Linked DNA regions of Homo sapiens. The protein of the gene in region 1 interacts with the protein of each later gene in a biochemical or structural test. Each region holds a gene or a part of one and is shown in the gene's direction. Other genes may lie near its edges.

The links.
Region 2: the proteins of NSF (region 1) and ESR1 form a complex in vitro, tested with the Homo sapiens proteins (one large-scale study listed by BioGRID).
Region 3: of the proteins of NSF (region 1) and FES, one has a biochemical effect on the other in vitro, tested with the Homo sapiens proteins (one study listed by IntAct).
Region 4: of the proteins of NSF (region 1) and PTPRO, one has a biochemical effect on the other in vitro, tested with the Homo sapiens proteins (one large-scale study listed by IntAct).

What each region holds. Positions count from the first base shown.
Region 1 is NC_000017.11:46,588,405-46,594,448, forward strand, and holds the start of NSF (vesicle-fusing ATPase), read left to right. Parts: upstream 1-2,264; 5' UTR 2,265-2,371; coding exon 2,372-2,383; intron 2,384-6,044.
Region 2 is NC_000006.12:151,814,182-151,818,665, forward strand, and holds part of ESR1 (estrogen receptor), read left to right. Parts: intron 1-4,484.
Region 3 is NC_000015.10:90,891,004-90,895,487, forward strand, and holds part of FES (tyrosine-protein kinase Fes/Fps), read left to right. Parts: coding exon 1-188; intron 189-550; coding exon 551-673; intron 674-1,054; coding exon 1,055-1,108; intron 1,109-1,703; coding exon 1,704-1,822; intron 1,823-2,096; coding exon 2,097-2,191; intron 2,192-2,287; coding exon 2,288-2,411; intron 2,412-2,650; coding exon 2,651-2,808; intron 2,809-2,932; coding exon 2,933-3,055; intron 3,056-4,412; coding exon 4,413-4,484. UniProt on the Homo sapiens protein: Tyrosine-protein kinase that acts downstream of cell surface receptors and plays a role in the regulation of the actin cytoskeleton, microtubule assembly, cell attachment and cell spreading.
Region 4 is NC_000012.12:15,325,508-15,329,991, forward strand, and holds part of PTPRO (receptor-type tyrosine-protein phosphatase O isoform a precursor), read left to right. Parts: intron 1-4,484.

The sequences.
Region 1 (6,044 bases):
GGGTAGATATGCACATTAGCTGATACACTGGAAACTTTCCAGCAGGCATATCCTTCCAAGATGATAAATATTCTTCCTTGTTGGAGAAATTGAAGACATTTGTACTTGCAATCTAGCTTATCTAGTAAAACAAGACAAACTAACCAGTGATAGGGAGAAACATGTTTGCATTATTTTCCAACCTTGAAAATAATGTCAGATTATTGGACTGAGAACCAATGTCATCTTCTGGATCTGGTAATTATTTGGACAAAATCTCTTTGATTCTAGGTTCAAAGTCAAGGTGTCAAAAAAAAAAAAAAGGATACAACTGTTAAGCTTATTTAATTATACCTCTCACTGTACAAATAAGGAAACTAGGCCAGGCGTGGTGGCTCACTTCTGTAATCCCAGCACTTTGGGAGGACAAGGCCAGTGGATCACCTGAGGTCAAGAGTTCGAGACCAGCCTGGACAACATGGCAAAACCCTGTCTCTACTAAAAATACAAAAATTAGCTGGGTGTGGTGGCAGGCGCCTGTAATACCAGCGACTTGGGAGGCTGAGACAGGAGAATAGCTAGAACCCGGGAGGCGGAGGTTGCAGTGAGCCGAGATCATGCCACTGTGCTCCAGCCTGGGTGACAGAGTAAGACTGCGTCTCAAAAACAAACAAACAAAAACAAATAAGGAAACTGGGCTCAGAGAGATGAAGGTACACAGGTGATGGGTAGATAGGGACAAAGAAAAGAACCTAACCCTTTGGACTCCCCAAGCCATTCTAATATTTGTTTTTGTAAGTTAGTAGCTTCTGCACGTTAGTATGTCAGAACTCAACTAGTTTCCTATCTTTCCTGATAACCTCTCCGACCCACCCATGATTTAGCTAACATCTGATTTGGTCAACCAAGCACCCTGGTCCTCAGGTTCAGTGTGAGACTTAATGAAATAGGCGTGAATTTTTTTTTTTTTTTTTTTTTTTTTAGACGGAGTCTCGCTCTGTTGCCCAGCCTCGCAATCTCAACTCACTTCAACCTCTGCCTCCGGGGTTCAAGCGATTCTCCCACCTCAGCCTCCTGAGTAGCTGAGATCACAGGCGCCCGCCACCACGCCCGGCTAATTTTTGTATTTTTAGTAGAGACGGGGTTTCACTATATTGGCCAGGCCGGTCTGGAACTCCTGACCTTAGGTGATCCACCCAAAGTGCTTGGATTACAGGCATGAGCCACCGCGCCTGGCTGGCATGAATTTTTTCTTCTGTCCCTAGTTCATCTTCAGGTCACTGTCTGATTTTATTAGTTCTCAAATTTAAATCACTATGCATGCTCAGCTCTTCTAGTTATTTCCCTTCTTTCCTCATGTTGGGAAAAAAACCCCGATTTATTCTAATTGTGAGAAATGAAAGCGAACAAATCCTATCATTCCCTATTGTCTTGTGCAAATATGAAGAGAGATATGATAGTGGGGTAAATAAAAGCATCAGGGAATCCATTCGGCAGAATCTTTCTCCTCTCAGCGTGCTTGCAGTTAGATATTCTGAGATTCCAGTGGAGAAATGGTATGGTGGAAACATTGAGGTTCAACAAGGCTCAATTTAGGGCATATTTTATTCAGATTCTACCATATATATTGTCTAAAATGAAACAACACTGGGGAATGAAAAGGTTGGTCGAAGATGCAAGTTGCCTTTATTAAATAAAGACAAATATTTAATAAAAATAATGTATAAAAATAATCACAATTCACTTTCAAATCTGAAAATACTGAGTTTTCCAGGCTACACATAAATAAAACTGCCAACGATGACAATTCCAGCAACTAGGAAAACAAGTACGCCTACAAAGAAAAGTGAGAAAATTCATGGAGAATTTGAACTCAGAACCAACTCCTCGGAGCTGATCTTTTTTGGGGGAAGCCAGGGAACGCGCCGGGCGCTCTCATCAGCAAGACCATGTTTAAAGAGAGTGTGGAAGCACAGACCAAAATGGACATTCGAGGGCGAACAGCAGCTGGCAAAGGGATAAGTGATCCGAAGCATTAAAGCCCTTGAGACAAATTCCGGCGCGAACCGCCAGTGGGGGATGAGACTCGCAGGCGCAGCCCTCCAGGCCCCGGCGGACTGACACGCACGTTGGAAACGGAGTCACCCACCACAGCCCCGCAGCTCCAGCCAAAATGGCGCCGCCGCTCTGCCCACCCCGCGCACCCCAGGCGGCCGCCGAGCCCGCGCGCGCGCCCTGTGGAGCGAGGACGCCGGGGACGCGGCCAGGGACGCGCGCGTCCTCACGGCGGTTGCACGCCTGCGCGAGGGCGGGCGGCGGGGGCGCGCGCGCGGCGGGGGCGGGCTTTGCCGAGCGCAGAGCTGCAGCCGCCGAGCCGGACGTGTCCGCGAAGATGGCGGGCCGGGTGAGTGCCGGTCTGGGAGCCCAGGCTTGAGGCAGGGGCGCCGGGCTCGCGGGCACTCTGGGGTCCAGGCGGCCCCAGAGGAGTGGGAGTGAATCCGAGCAATGGGGCGCGAGGCCAGAGCGGGACTTGAGGGTAGCAGGGGAGCGGTGGCAGGGGATTAGCCCTCCTCAACAACTCCACCCCCCTCGAGGGGAGATGACCCCTCGTTACACGCGTCTGCTGCGCCTCCCGTCATCCTCCCTTCCCATCCCTTGGGGCTTGTTCCCTCGTCCTCCACACAGCCGCAGGGTCGCGGTCGCCGAAGCCCCCTCTGACGGGCTCTGGGGGTCTTTCCGCACCCCCTTGCGAGGGCTTATTAGGGGGCGCCGGAGTAACTGCCGGGAGCACCTCTGCTGCATTCGGGGCAAGGGGTGTAGGAAGGATCTTCAGGAACCCATGTCTGGCTCTTCACAAATTAAAGGTCGTTGGGAAAGAGGAGGGGGTGCCAATGACTTTTAGTGTTAAAGCCCGGCCATCTGGGGGACCTGTCAACTGTCGGGTCAGGCAGGAATTGGCTTTAGCTTGGAGTGAGGATGGATTTGGGGTGTCACGTTTTGTTTTTATGGATGACACTCGCTTCGAATGCAGCAGGATATGCTGTAGTTTCAGGGTTTTAAATTTACTTCCTCCTTTAGCCTTTAGGATCGTTGGGTAGGATGGGTTTGGCGAGGAGAGAGAGCTGGTTGAGTGCTGTATTGCAGTCTGCCTTGAGCTAAAAGCTCTCAAGGGATGAGTCCTGCCCGGAGATTACACTGGTCATAAACCTGAGGACATTAACTGCGTCATTGGGGGTGAAAGATGTGATTGACTGATCTATTTATAACAGAATTTTTGAATAAGTTTGCATAGATTTATGCATATATGCAAATGCCCTATCTGAAGGGACTTGTAGGTCATGAGATTCTAGAGTAAGAAGGGATCTTAAAGGTCATTTAGTTTGGCTTCTTTCTCTTCCTTTTCCCCATGGCCTCTCCTTTTAAGGCTAGTCCTTCTGCCAGTACTTCAGACCCTATCTGTATATTCACCTGCTCCTTCTTAACATAATCAAGCTTCTCTATCTTAAACCCTTCCCCCACCCCCACAGCTGTCACCTTTTCCCGTCCCAGTTTACAGCAGGAAATTTGATAGAGTTGTCTATATTTATTGTCTTCCATTTGCTTACCACCTACTCACCCTTCAACCTACTGCAGTCTGATTTCTGCCCCATCATCCCACTGAAACCTGTCCCTCAACTTAATTGATACCTTTCAATCCTTATCTTATTTGATATCTCAGCAGCGTTTGACGTTGTTGACCATGGCTTCCTTGACGGAAAGCACTCTTCACATGTGTTCTGGAATGCCTCGCTCCTGGTTTGACTCAGACCTCTCTTTTGCGGCCTCACCCTCCTCTACTTTGTTATTCATTGCTGGTATTCCTCAAAGGCCGTCTTCTCACTCTCAATTTCCCGCTCAGGCAATTTCTTCTAAGCCCATAGCTACAACTGTCTATATGCCAGTGATTCTCAATATTTTACCCCCAGTCCAGACCTGCCCTTTAAGTTTCAGGTTAATATGTCCAACTGCTTATTTAAAATCAAGGTCCCGAAACGCAGCTTTTTCAACTCCGAACCCAGGATCTTAGCCCACCTAACTTGTGTAGATACTCCTCGACTTAACGATGGGGCTACCTTCCGATAAACCCATTGTAAGCTGAAAGTATCAGAAGTTGAAAATGCATTTAATACACCCGATCTACCGAATATCATAGCTTAGCCTAGCCTGCCTTCCTTACACATGCACAGAACACTTACATTAGCCTACAGTTGGGCAAAATCATCTAACATAAACCTATATTATAAAATGTTGAATACCTCATGTCATTTATTACTGTGCTGATAGTGAAAAACAGAATGGTTGTGTAGGTCTTCAAAGTACAGTTTCTGCTGAATGCCTATCACCTTTGCACTATTGTAAAGTTGAAAAATGTTAAGTCAAACCATTGTAAGTCAGGGACCATCTGTACCTATCCAGTGAGATAGGAATATCTCACTGAATGATACCATCATCCACCCAGTTATATAGGCTGGGAATCTGAGGGAGGGAGAGGGTGGGTAACCCTTTATGTCTCTCTTTTGCTGTACCCATGTCCTCTGCCCTATCCCCCGGTAAAATTTGTCAGAGTTCTGCTCCTGCCCCCCATAAAGGTATTTAATTAGGGCCAAAGACTCTGGTTTGGGGGAATGGTTGCTTTAGACTAGTTCCAAGTCACCCACTGGACTATCTGGATTGGTCACATGGGTTCTGTCATTTTAACCTAAAAATCTCCAGTCTGTCCACCTTTCCACATCTTCATTTTTACCTCCTTTTCCCAAACTACCATCATTTCTGGTCTGGACTACTGCAGGAAGCTTCCAAGTATTTTTTTGTTCGTTTGTTTGAGATGGAGTTTCGCTCTTGTTACCCAGGCTAGAGTGCAATGGCGTGATCCCTGCTCACTGCAACTTCCGCCTCCTGGGTTCAAGCCATTTTCCTGCCTCAGCCTCCTGAGTAACTGGGATTACAGGCGCCCACCACCACACCCGGCTAATTTTTGTATTTCTAGTAGAGACGGGGTTTTACCATGTTGGCCAGGCTGGTCTCGAACTCCTGACCTCAGGTCATCCACCTGCCTTGGCCTCCCAAAGTGCTGAGATTCGTGCCCGGCCTCCCAAGTAGTCTTCTTAGAGCATGTGGCCCACCTCCAATTCATTCTTGACCTTCATTGTTCCTTCCCGTGCCTATTACTACTTAAACCCCTCCTCAGCAGCATCCCATTACTTTTGGGAGAAAACCAAATCCTTAATGAGGCCTTCAGGACTCTTTGTGGTTCTGCTCCTGCTTCTTTCCACTCATTCTCTTACTCTGTGTGCTCAGGTTATATGGTAAACGAGCCTTTCAATTCCTTGAACCTGTAGTTTCTCTTACCACAAGGTCTTTGCGAGTGGTGTTTCCTTTCTTTGTAACGTTCTTCCCCCCAACCATTTACCTCCTACTCAGACATCACTTAGCTACTCAAGGGAGGCCTACTCTGACCCCACATTATAAGTCAGGATCCTTTGTTATATACTCTTGAAGAACTGTATTCCTCTCCTTAGAGATTTATCTTTTTGTTACTTTGAGTGTGTGTTATTATTTGCTTCTACCACTTCACCTCAGTGAAAAGCAGAGAACATACAAGTTATTTAGTCATTATCAACTGCGCTTTGTGTACCTTGTGGGACTTAGGTACTCAATACATTTTTGTTGAAAATGAATCAGTCTCTGAACACTCTGGTGATAGATGGTATATTACCCTAAAGCTTGCCTGTAATGTCATACAGCTATGTTAGGTCTTTGTTATCTGGAGTTCCATGTAACTTTTATACGTAGTTACTATTTCTGCTGTTTCAAGCCATACGGAACTAAACACAATTCTTTTTCCATGTAATAGCTACTCAAGCTACTCATTTACTTGAATACAGGTTACATATCTCCTCAGATTTTCGATTTTGCAAGTTAAACATCCCCCAATTCCTAGCATATTTCATATTCCAAACCCTTCATCATTTAGGCTACCTTCCTCTGGAAGTAACCTAATGTTACTGTTTTGTCAACCTTTCTTC
Region 2 (4,484 bases), on another chromosome or scaffold:
ATTTCTTTTATGGCCCTGAAAGCAAAAGACAATGTTCTCTTTTAGTTTCCTGCAATTAAATGATGTTAGAAATAGTCATCTTCACATTGGCGTACTTCCTCTTTCTTCTGTAGGTCTTTTAGAATTTTGAGTCCATTCTCATATTTTCTTGTTTCATTTGCTTTATTTTCTAATACATAGAAGTTTAAACTCCCTTTAAAGAGTTTTTGGCCTCTTTTACCCTATTAAGCTTTCTTTTTTCTTTTCTGTTTTAGTTGTTCCATCTGTGTATTCTCAGATATTTTTCTTTCACCTTTTCTGGTTTATTTCTTTATTGACCTGTCTCATCTGTTATTTTAATGAAATTTGGAACAGGGCTAAACAGAGTTCCTACCTCAGCCAGTATAAGAATATACCGTAATAACTCAGAGTGGTATTAACTAGATTAAAAGTTTCAAAAAGTGATGTTTTTCTTGTCTCTGAGGATAGAAACTTCAACAAAATAAAGAAGAAATTTTCAATTAGTAGAATTTCTTTGAAAGTTTGTTCATTCATTCATTTGGCTACCTTATTCCAAATTGAGTCATTCATTGAGGGCTTAGACTATATAAAGTGTGGTTTTGTTTTCCCAGCAGTTCATGCAACAGCATTGCACCTAGCAGCTGGGAAGTCTTATAGCATGAATAGGTGAGATTCTAATACCAGAATCTCCTGCATGTGTAAACTAACAGTGTAGTCTTGACTGTTGTCTCCCAGTAAACTTGGTTTCAGGAGTTTTAGATCCATGTGAACGTGTACAAGGCATTTTTGCTAACTGTAACTTCCCACTTAATCAACAAAAACAAAAACACTCATTTCTGAACATTCAGTGCATTCATGATTAATCTTAATTACACCACAAAGGTATTTTTCAATGGTGATTTTGCGGGAGTGGGGTAACAGTTTCGAAAGCAACATTGTCAGAAACATAGTTGATTTTAAAGGTTCTTTCTGGTGACTTTGACTTCTGCTTTTTTAGAAGACCTTACACAGAGTTGTATTTATTTCTCCTGGAATATTTCAAGCAATTCAGAGTGAAAGGGTATACATTCCAATTTGCGTATGAGATAAAATTTAGTTACATTGAGAAGCTATTTTCTTTAGTTACAGGGAAAAAATTGTAGGGCTTTTGGAAGCCTCTTTGATTTCTAATAGGAGGAATCCCTGAGCACTGGTCCAAACAGAAATCATCTCTTCTTCATTGCTGTATTTCCCTCAAGCTCTTAGCAAAGTGCATGGCACGTGAAAGCCCGGAGAAGCTGTTGGTTGAAAGAATGGATGGTGGTGGGCAGGAAGCATCAGGGACATGGTTTGCTTCAGTCTATTGGCTGGGAGAAAGGCCATTTAGGAAGGGATCCTTAGATGCCACTGGAAGAATGTGGGAAGTTTGTGAATCTCTCTTTCTCAGGAACAAAAGTAGAAAAAGGACTCCACACAGCATTCCAAGTACAGTCGGCCCTCATTATTCATGGATTCTGTATTTGCAAATTCGCTGACTTACTGACGTTTATTTGTAACCTTCGAGTCAACACTCACGGTGCTTTCTCAGTCCTTTGCAGACGTGTGGAATGGCAAAAAAATTTGAGTTATATGACGTATATGTTCCCAGCTGAGGCTGAGCAAGGCTCACTTCTCCTTGCAGCCCTCAGACTATAAACAAGTGTCCCTCTTGCTATCTACTTCGTGTTATGATTTTTGCATTTTCATAATCCCTGTTGATGATTTTGCTGTTTAAAATGGCCCCTAAGCATGGTCCTGAAGTACTGTCTAGGGATTCTAAGACAAGGCTCTGACGTGTCTTAAGAGAAAATACGTGTTTGATAAGCTTTATTCAGGCATGAGTTACAATGCTGTTGGCCATGAGTTCAATGATGGTGAATCAACAGGATATATTAAATACAGTGTTTTTGAACAGAAAAACATATAAAACAAGGTTATGTATTAATGAGTTGGCAAAAATGCTGTGACCAAAGGCTCCCAGGAACCTACCCTATTTTCCCCTCAATGCAATGGTTCAGTATTTGCTAATTCAGTGTTTGAGGTGACTTTATAGAACATGAGTACCATGAATAATGAGAATCGATTCTGTATAATAGAGTGATGAAAGCACAGGTCTGGGAGCCAGCAGCTATATTTCTATTCTGGCGTGACTCCTGTGTAGTTGTCATCACTGGCAAATTGCTTAACTGTGTGCCTCAGTTTCCTAATCTGTAAAAGCTACATCGTTTGGATGATGTGAGGATTAAACAAATTCATAGATGTCTAGGGCTTATAACATTCCTGGCACATAACAAGTCATTATTTTTTATTACTACTTCGGAAGGGAATTGAGTACTATACCCTGAAGAAGGTGAGTATGGGAATTCTCTACGGGTCTGGAATGTCCCTATATTTGTTTATTTTGCCTTCAAGTGACTAACTTTAATACCCTATTGTGATTAGAAGTTAAACTTCTGCAACCAAAAGGAAGCAGGAAGCTAGTATTTCTTGAAGTGCTTATTACATGCCAGGTACTGTGCTACAAAAACAAAACAAAACAACTGTAAAAAAAACTTCAAATTTGGCTGCGTGCAGCTGCTCATGCCTGTCATCCCAGCACTTTGAGGAACTGAAGGGAGGATTGCTTGAGTCCAGGAGTTCCAGACCAGCCTGGGCAACACAGTGAGACCCTGTCTCTACAAAAAAACAAAAACAAAAACAAAGGCACTCCAAATCAGTAAAAATTAATCAATCAATAAAAAGAGTGAGGGGCATTAAGTATTGTGGACTGAAGCAATCCCAGAGAGGGAATTAATTGAAGCTGAGGTAAGCAGCTTATGGAGAAGCTATGATGTACAGAGGGCAAGGAAGGAATTTTTCTGTAATTTGGAAAAATGGGAACTGTGAGAAAGAAGGAGTTGGAAGCTCATACTTAGGGAGCATCTACAAGGACGTCTTTTTCACGTTGGTTGGAATATCCAAATCAAGGATTATTTCAGAATCACCCAGATGATTAAAAAACTACTGAGATCCAGGTTGTATTTCAGCAGTTCTGACAATTGCTCTGGGTCGAAGCTTGAATCAGTAGTTAAGAAAAACAACAAACAAAACAAATTTTGGGGCTTTTCTCACTGATTTACAGTTAAAGCTCATTTACTCTTCCTATGACTTTAGATGGAGGATATTTCCAAGTCTTCAGGATGGAGACATGGAGGGAAGTGAGACTAGTGATGTGCCTCAAGGTTTTGCTGTTGTTCTAACCATGAGGAGCACTATTCAAACCCAGGTCTGCTAGATTTCCAAGTCTTCATTTCCTTGGGCCTCTTGGATTTCAGAAGCAGAGGGTAAAAGGAGTGCTGGGGAGAAAGATCACAGTAGCTTTCAATTCTACTCCTCAGCTTTCCAAAATAAGTTTCAAGACTGGCCGTTGCATTTGATATGGAATAAATACAAAGAAGGTAGATTGAAGGGTATGAAGATGCAGATTTTTGATACCAGATATGAAGATAACATTAGGAAGCAATCTAAAACATGGACACAAACACACACCTGTGCCAGTTAGCCTGTATAATTCGATTTTTGTTAAGTGTTTAGATAACTGAAGGTAATTTAAGCCCTCATATCTTCCCTTCATAGGGTTCTTTTTCCCTCTGGTTCATCAGAGAGTTGCCACCAATTCAGGCTGTTAGTGGTACACATAACCTCTAGCATTGTTGATACAGCTATAAAATCCCAAATATCAGTACAATTGTTGATTGCATAAAATTTCCAGTTGCATGGTTGGAAAGTCCTGTAAGTTTGAATCCTTAAACCAGTCTTAAATGTGGAGGAGGACTCAATTAAAGCTCTCCTCGTGTCCTCCCTCTGACGTATTTGCAAAATCCTTTCCACAAATAGAATACTGTTTTTAATGCTTCCCCAGTCCAATTTTGCGTTGTAGAAGACGAATTTATGGATGAGGGAAGTGGCATTCAGGCACTCCAGCTTGGTATAGAAGCCCATGGTGTCTGGTCCTCAGTCCTCAAGCCCGCTCATTTCCTCATGTGAACTCAGAATAAGCAGCTGAAAGCAAGTCTTCAAAATCTCAGAGATATGTATAAATGCAAGTGTTTGGGTGAGAAGTGAACATGGGTCTCCTCTAGTGCCCACACTACTTGACTAACAGGTTTTGGGCTCCACACAATGAGGGATTATCAACCCCTGTCCCAGGGCTCTCTGGGTCTTGGTTCTTTGTTTTTGATGCTCAGCAATTGTGATCAGTGAAACCAATGTTGCTTTTCTATCAAGAGTCCAACCCTTTTCTAAGAAGGGTTGTGTTTGATATTAGGGAATAGCTAGCAAAGTTATCAAGTAACTTGTAGAAACATTCTTTTGCAAGAGTTCTTATACTGAATGACTGTAGTTGACAGCAGTGCAGTACTGGTCATTTTCTAGGACATCTTAAAAACACTGATGAGAAGTTTCCTCTCAGATGTCTGTCATGTCAT
Region 3 (4,484 bases), on another chromosome or scaffold:
TTCCGGAGGTGCAGAAGCCCCTGCATGAGCAGCTGTGGTACCACGGGGCCATCCCGAGGGCAGAGGTGGCTGAGCTGCTGGTGCACTCTGGGGACTTCCTGGTGCGGGAGAGCCAGGGCAAGCAGGAGTACGTGCTGTCGGTGCTGTGGGATGGTCTGCCCCGGCACTTCATCATCCAGTCCTTGGATGTGAGTGGGGCTGGGACCCGAGCCTTCCAGGCCTCACTCTTCCCCTCCCTTCCCTTCCCCAAGGGAAATGGCCTTTCAGGGTAGGGGGTAGCTGCCAGGTCTTGGATGCCTCCCTAGCAGGGCTGGCTGGAAGGGGCCACAGAGACCACCCTGTCCCTGCAACAAAATAGAGGCTTAAGTGTGAGTCCTCCCCTGGTGGGGCAGCAGGATGTCATGTGCCATCAGATGGCATCTTTTCTGGAGGTCTCTCTGCCCCTGGTCCTGGGCAGGCCCTTTCTCCCCTGCTGCTCTCCCTTTCCCCCTCCCAGGGCTCACGCCCCCTCAGAATGGAGGCTGCTGACCCCGGGTCCCCTGCCCTGCAGAACCTGTACCGACTGGAAGGGGAAGGCTTTCCTAGCATTCCTTTGCTCATCGACCACCTACTGAGCACCCAGCAGCCCCTCACCAAGAAGAGTGGTGTTGTCCTGCACAGGGCTGTGCCCAAGGTGAGCCTGCACCCAGCCTGGCCCATGCCACCTGTGGCAGGGCTTGGGGAGTGTGGGTCAGGCCCACCCAGCGTCTGAGCAGAAAGGGCTTTCCAGGCCCTCCGTCTACATACAAGATGCAGAGTGAGTGACCCTCAGGGCCAGCCTTGCTCTAGGTTTGGAATGTCAGGGCCACTCCTATGCCATGGGCTGTACACACCAGGTTGGTGCTTACCTGGTCAGGGCACCTGCCTGGACCCCGTAGTCATCTCAGTGTGCTCCCCACGTGGTCCCACCCCTGGTCACATATGGAGGCGCCAAAAAATGGAGGACACAGCCCTTCTAAGGGCCCAGCACCCCTTTTCTTCAGACTTCTGATCCCCTGTCTCCTCTCTTCCCCAGGACAAGTGGGTGCTGAACCATGAGGACCTGGTGTTGGGTGAGCAGATTGGACGGGTGAGTGCGCCTCTGCTGGCCTCCTTGTCGCTGGCGACTTCTCCTGAGTCGCGCCTGGGCCCCCTGCCCTACCACCCAGAGACCTCCCTGCCCCATCTGATTCCCCACTTGTACCCCGACTCCCTGCCCAGCCCCCACCACACACCATCCTCCAGGAAACGGGACAGTACCTACCCTGAAAACTCCCAGCAGACAGCTCTGCCAGCACCCTGACCTCATCACCCCCACCCAGGCCGCCCCCATCGAGCTCTTGTGTGCACGCAGGGAGACACCCTGTTACTGTAAGCCATAAGATACCTGTTTAGGGAAGAAGTCACTGTCCTAAAAATCAGAATGCTTTTCAAACCCAAGGGAGAGTGATTTTTGGATTTCCATGTCACTTCTCTCAGGAAGGGTGGCACATCGGAGGCAACTTTCCCTGCCTGCCCCATGTGCTCTCTAGGTTCCCCAGCGAGGGTCAAACTCCCAGAGAGCCTGGGTGAGGGGTCCGAACACGGGGGCCCCTCACCCAGGGGTAGGAAGCAGAATGGGTAGGAAGCGGAGAAGAGAACTGCGGGACTGGGAAGGCCGTGGTAGGAGCCCAAGACCGTTTCAGGGGAACTTTGGCGAAGTGTTCAGCGGACGCCTGCGAGCCGACAACACCCTGGTGGCGGTGAAGTCTTGTCGAGAGACGCTCCCACCTGACCTCAAGGCCAAGTTTCTACAGGAAGCGAGGTGGGTGATAAACTAATGATCACCACGGGTCCCGCATACACAGAGGTTACACTGCATGGCACAGTGTGAAGTGCTTGACCACCGTGGTGGTGTTTAGTCCTCGAGGCCCCCCATTGCGGGTAGTACCCCCTTATAGTGCCGAAGGGTAGAGGCTGCCCCAGGTCACACGTCCGGGTCTGCTGGCCTTGGAGGCCAAGCTCTTCTCCCATCATCCCTGGGGGGCCCTGGGGAGGCGGGCCTGGCCACGTAGATCCTGAGCAGCAGTGCCCTCCAGGATCCTGAAGCAGTACAGCCACCCCAACATCGTGCGTCTCATTGGTGTCTGCACCCAGAAGCAGCCCATCTACATCGTCATGGAGCTTGTGCAGGGTGAGCGCGGGGCGCTGAGCTCCAGGTAGGGCGCGCAGCCTGGTCAGGTGGCAGCCTTACCTCAGGAGGCTCAGCAGGGGTCCTCCCCACCTGCAGGGGGCGACTTCCTGACCTTCCTCCGCACGGAGGGGGCCCGCCTGCGGGTGAAGACTCTGCTGCAGATGGTGGGGGATGCAGCTGCTGGCATGGAGTACCTGGAGAGCAAGTGCTGCATCCACCGGTGAGTGGGCGGTGGCCACGGGCCCTGCCAACACCCCCGACCAGAGTCAAGAGGTACCTATACCCCTAGGGCCCCCCGCTGGACCATCAGGCATCAGCTCCAGAGGGGGAGTTGGCCTCTGTGGTAGACAGGGGTGCCCAGGGCCGGGAGCAGCTTTTGTCCTTGGCTTTCCTAGAGTGTTCAGCCAGGGCTGGGCAGGCGACTGTTGGCCAAATGAGCCCCTGCCCTGTCTCACCCAGGGACCTGGCTGCTCGGAACTGCCTGGTGACAGAGAAGAATGTCCTGAAGATCAGTGACTTTGGGATGTCCCGAGAGGAAGCCGATGGGGTCTATGCAGCCTCAGGGGGCCTCAGACAAGTCCCCGTGAAGTGGACCGCACCTGAGGCCCTTAACTACGGTACCTAGTCCCTGTCTACCCTGGACTCCATGGCCAGAGGCCAGGCCTGGGTCCTGCCGGCTGCCTCGCCCTGGCCCCAGGGAGGGTGCACTCACGCTGCCTCACCTCCTCGCCTCCTCTGCAGGCCGCTACTCCTCCGAAAGCGACGTGTGGAGCTTTGGCATCTTGCTCTGGGAGACCTTCAGCCTGGGGGCCTCCCCCTATCCCAACCTCAGCAATCAGCAGACACGGGAGTTTGTGGAGAAGGGTAAGCACCCTGTGATGACAGCAGCCTCAGGCTGCACCCTCTTCCAGATGCTCCAGCCGGACTCTTCTAACTCCCTTAATGCCAACCTTCCCACCAGGCAGAATAAGAATAACCTGGCCAGTTGCTCACGCCTGTCATCCCAGCACTTTGGGAGGCTGAGCTGGGTGGATCACTTGAGCCCAGGAGTTCAAGATCAGCTTGGACAACACAGTGAAACTCCATCTGTACAAAAAATACAAAAATAGACTGGGCACGGTGGCTCACACCTGTAATCCCAGCACTTTGGGAGGCCGAGGCAGGTGGATCACCTGTGGTCAGGAGTTTGAGACCAGCCAGACCAACATGGTGAAACCCCATCTCTACTAAAAATACAAAAATTAGCCAGGCATGGTGGCACGTGCCTGTAATCCCAGCTACTTGGGAGGCTGAGGTGGGAGAATTGCTTGAACCCAGGAGGCGGAGGCTGCAGTGAGCCGAGATTGTGCCACTGCACTCCAGCCTGGGCGACAAGAGTGAAACTCCATCTCAAAAAAAACCAAAAAACAAAAAATACAAAAATTAGCTGGGTGTGGTGACATGCGCCTGTAGTCCCTGCTACTCGGGAGGCTGAGGTGGGAGGATCACTGGAGCCCGGGAGGTGGAGGTTGCAGTGAGCTGAGATCATGCCACTGCACCCCAACCTGGGTGACAGAGAGAGAGAGAGACCTTGACTCGAAAAAGAAAAAAACCTGGGCGCAGTGGCTCACGCCTGTAATTTCAACATTTTGGGAGGCTGAGGAAGGTGGATCACTTGAGTCTAGGAGTTTGACACTAGCCTGGCCAACATGGCAAAACCTGTCTCTACTAAAAATACAAAAAATTAGCGAGGTGTAGTGGTGCAAGCCTGTAATCCCAGCTACTTGGGAGGCTGAGGCACAAGAATCGCTTGAACCTGGGAGGTGGAGGTTGCAGTGAGCTGAGATCACACCACTGCATTCCAGCGTGGGTGACAGAGCAAGACTCCATCTCAGAAAAAGAAAAAAAAAAATAGAATATCCCTGTAGCTACTACTGAGTGAGCACCTGGTCTGTGCTAGGTCACATGTTATTTCATTTGCTCATCACTACATGTGTGGTAGGGATTAATATGTCCCTTTCTCAGATGGAAAAACAGGCTGGCAGAGGGGACACAGCTAGCACGTGGTAGGATTAGGATCAGAAGCCAGGCCTCTTTGTCCTTTGGGCCCTTGGTGGAGAACAGTGCATCCTTCAGAACAGTGCATCTTAAGCAGCTCCTATGGCTCATGGTATCCCCCAGAGTCTGCCGAGGACCCTCAAACTCCCTCCTCATGCCTGGTGTGCTGTGCCTCTCCTCACAGGGGGCCGTCTGCCCTGCCCAGAGCTGTGTCCTGATGCCGTGTTCAGGCTCATGGAGCAGTGCTGGGCCTATG
Region 4 (4,484 bases), on another chromosome or scaffold:
TGAAAATTTTTATTTTTATATCAATATTGATGGTGTATATAAAATAGAAGAAAAAATGGAACTCTGTTATTATATTGAAGGCTACTAATTTCAAAGTCTTCTATGGATGAATGCAAGTGAGGTATTTATCTGGCGAGCCTCGCTGTTGTGTGTCTTCCCATAATTCCCAGTGAAAGAAATGTAACTTCCTACACTTGTCCTATCTTTACTAAAGCCCTCCTAGAAAATGTCTTCCTGTATCAGTTTACTCAGTATAAGTACTTTGTCTACTAAGGTGCAAATCGTGGAATATGACATCATAGGAATTTGAAGTTGGCCTTCCCTGAAATGTTGCTTTTTAGTAGTCAGCTGGAATATATTCCTAAACTCAAGTGCTTGGCGTGTGTCCTTCTTTTTTAACCCCTTCTCTCTATTTCTTTCTATTTCTGCTTTTACCAGAGATATCATCAAAGAATATCAAATTTAAAAAGGGTCTTAATATTGTACTTTCTGAAACAGGTTTATATTTAATTCTATAATACATGAGTGTTATGATACTGGCCATTCTACTCTTATCCAGGGGAAATATCTGTTTTCCACGGTCTGTCTGCCTTTCCTTTCCTATGTCTCCCCTCGCAACCCCATACACACACACAAAGAAGTTTCACTTTTCGTGGTTGAGGTTTCATCCATAAATTGCACAGTGTTGGCAGGTGAACCATAATCCTTTCATTTTGCTGGAGCAGCTTAGATCCTTTCCATCACAATGAAGTTTGCTGCCCTTAACTCCCATGTCATCTGACTCCTTTAATAAATCATATTGCCAACCTTTTGGAGAAACCTTTTTACATGTGACATCCCCAGTAGGTTGGCAAAGGCTCCCTGGGCCATGCTTCTACAGATGATCGAGTAATAATCCTTCCCACTGTGAACATATGTTTCCTTTTGTTCTTTGTTTTGTGAGAGACTATCGTTGTGTGAAGGAATGAAAAATTCACATTACACCTCTGCCTCATTTTGGCCCAAAAGAAAATGCACATTTATGTGGATAACTGATTAAAAACAATATGAGTTGTACTTTATTTTAAAATGTAACACTATTTCTACTATCTAAATATCCAACTTAAAGGTATTTAAACGTATAAGCAGATTTACTCCTGAACCTTATAAATATAATTCTAACTTGAGGGGTTGTAAAAGAATGTTTGATGTCAGATACAGTTGATGCACTTAAGTAAAACATTGTAATTGGTAGCAGTGTGGCACAATAGAAGGCTTAACAACAATGACCACAAGTTTTCATTTTCCCCTAATTTAATGCCTCTCCGTACACAGTTTCAGTGATGTTGCATTTTCAGAAACATATCCCAGTGCAGTGATGAGCTTTACTGTAAAGCACTTAATGTTTTCATTTAATTACTCCAAATATGTTGTAAATATTTTTGAAATAAAGGAATGTCTACTGTAATATTTCTATCTTTCATGGTGCTAGTATGTGGTGTTAGGAATTTAATAGAAGGTTAATAAACAGATTTAAATTTTCTGCATTATATAAAAGCTCTGACTGAGAATTATGAAATATTGTAATATTGACTTGTGAACACATCTTTAAGGAAAATATAGGAAAATTATCATTATGGGAGTTAAATAATCATAACTACAATGCACTCATTACATTCAAATAGTAAAAATTTTACCAATCACTTATATTAGAATCTTATTAAAACCATAAATTAAAATATCAGTTATTTTTCCCAGAAATGTAATATTCTCAGTTGCTCATTTATTCATTAATGTTACCTCACCTCTGTTTAATGTTATTAATTAAAAAGTAGCAAATGACATACTAGGGGAAATTGATTTTTTTAACCTGTATGGGTGACCTACAATTTCAGCTAGTACCCAGATATACAGGTAATATTTTTGCCTCCTCTTCCACATCACCACTCCGCTATGACCACAACCAACCAGAACTGACCAAGATTTCTGTGTTCCTAGTAGAAATCCTCCTAATGTTTTGTCAGACATCACCCTTAAGAGATGAAGTATTTTCTACACCCTGGTCTTGGTTATCCCTATGGTAGTGTTTAATCCAAGGTCGTATAACCCAATTTCTTACAGAACTCTTCTATAGTCATCTTAAATACCCATTATATCAGCTCTTTTTGCTCAAATAAATATGTAAGTTTTTTTTGTGCGCTGGTGTCATTGATTTGAGGAACCCAAACAAGGTTAATGTGGCTCAAGTAAAGTGAGCAAGAGTGTGAATGGATTGGGATGAGTGTGAATGGGTTCCTTCTCTCCTGGTGCTGTTGACTCCAGCAGGTCCCATAGGGTTTCTATCAGCCAATAAGAGGTGGCTCACGCCTGTAATCCCAGCACTTTGGGAGCCTGAAGCAGGTGGATCACCTGAGGTCAGGAATTCGATACCAGCCTGGCAAACATGGTGAAACCCCGTCTCTACTAAAAATACAAAAAACAGCCAGGTGTGGTGGCAGGCACCTGTAATCCCAGTTACTCGGGAGGCTGAGGCAGGAGAATCGCTTGAACCCAGAAGGCGGAGGTTGCAGTGAGCAAAGATCACACCATTGCACTCCAGCCTGGGCGACAAGAGTGAAACTTGTCTCAAAAAAAAAAAAAAAGTATATGTGAATAACCTCCTTAATTAAATACCTCTCATGTAATCTGCTATCACCAATTACTCCTAATGTTTCCCTTTTCCAAGCTTGTTCTAGGTCTTCAGAACACCAATCCTTAGATTTTTTTTCCTCTGCACATTGTACCTTTGAATTTATTTCTATGAGTAAGATCATATCTTAGCCTTGTGCCAGAAAAGCGTTCGCAAGTCTTTCAGCATCTAATTCCCGAATGAAAGATTTCTTCTTTCCTTAGACATTCTAGTTACTTAAAGGCCAGCTCCTTTTTCTTCTGAATATTTTAAAACCACCAAACAAACAGAAGATGTTTGAAACAAGGTTGCGGGGATTTCCTGATAAAAGGTTTTTTTCTTTCCTTTTTTTCAGGAAATTGAGATGAAAGGGAGAAAAGTGATATATGCTTGGAAAAATATTTCAGAAACAGAGAATCAGAAATGGAAATAGGACTTCAAGCTTGAGAGCGGTATTGCAAATTATGAGTATGAATGGTAATTTCTGTAAGAAAATGAATATAGGGGAAATTAGAGAATGAAATGAAGAACATTTGATGAAAACAAATACACTGCAATTCTATTTATATGCAAATAAATGTATTTTCTTATCAAATACTCTTTATCTATTTGGTTTTTCACTCTTTATAAATAGGAATGCTGCACAGTTCATTTTTCTAACAAAACTATTTCTATCTTAATGAAAATTTAAACTAAATAAACCTATTTTTAAATGTGATTTTTGGTATATTTACTAGCAAATTAAAAGAATAGGAATGCAATTTATCTACAAGTAGTGGTGCAAGATCAGAATTATATTAATAGTAATCTATATGAGATTTAAATGATGAATGTTTCCCTTTTTTGTGCTATTTCATTTTACTGTTTTCAGATAACTGAGACTTTGTTTTATTTTCCTCTTTCTGCCTACTAAGTTTTTAATATCAGTGATTTATATAACGGGTGAGGAAAGGCGTCATATGACTCTACCATGCTCTCAATACTGTTCCTTCATTATTACCCGCCATTGACCAAATTAAGTGCAGAGGAATTTCTGACCCTGGTTCTCTCTACCTTTAACCCGTATCAGAGACCAATTATGAGCCTGCTGTGCTGATATGTGTCTTGTGATTCTCTCTTGGTTCCACGCATAGGAATTTGTGATTGGCATGTACAAACCAGATGTCAGAGAATTCAAAAGAATTTTCAGTGCCCTTTGTATCTTCGGTCCTATCTGAAGCCTGATTCCCACCTCCCTATACTTACTTTCTGAATCAATATTGTATTTTGATAAACTCTAGTATTCCTGCTTTTGGATCCTGGCATTAATTATAATTAACCACTCCTTGTCTTTTAGTTTCCTTGAAAGAGCATCCTATAAACATTTTTTGGCTGGCCAATCTTTCCCCAATGCCAAAATGGAAAGATTGAGAAGCTCCCTTTCTTCTTCAATACTGTCTTTTGTATTCCAGAATAAAGACTCACTGCCCAATTCCATTTAGTTAATCAAACATCCATTAAGCATCTAATATGTGCCAGGAATTTTACTAGATATTATAGGTACAGAAGTGGATAATACTCAGTTGAGTCCCTGGCAGTGGCATATTGGGAACATGGACACAGATGATGGTCATTAGAATATGGTGTTTTGTTTTACGGATGAAAATGTGGGCTGCTAGAGGAGAGACACTTAACTATTTAGTGGTTTGGGAAATTATTTATTTTAAGATGATTCCTGAGCTGAGTCCTGAAGCATAGGTACGAGTTAGGTTTAAATATATACACACAAAGGCAGAGAAAACTGCACGAGCAAAGGCCCAGTGTTGTGAAAAGCATGGCAGAGTTTAGGAAAATGCAG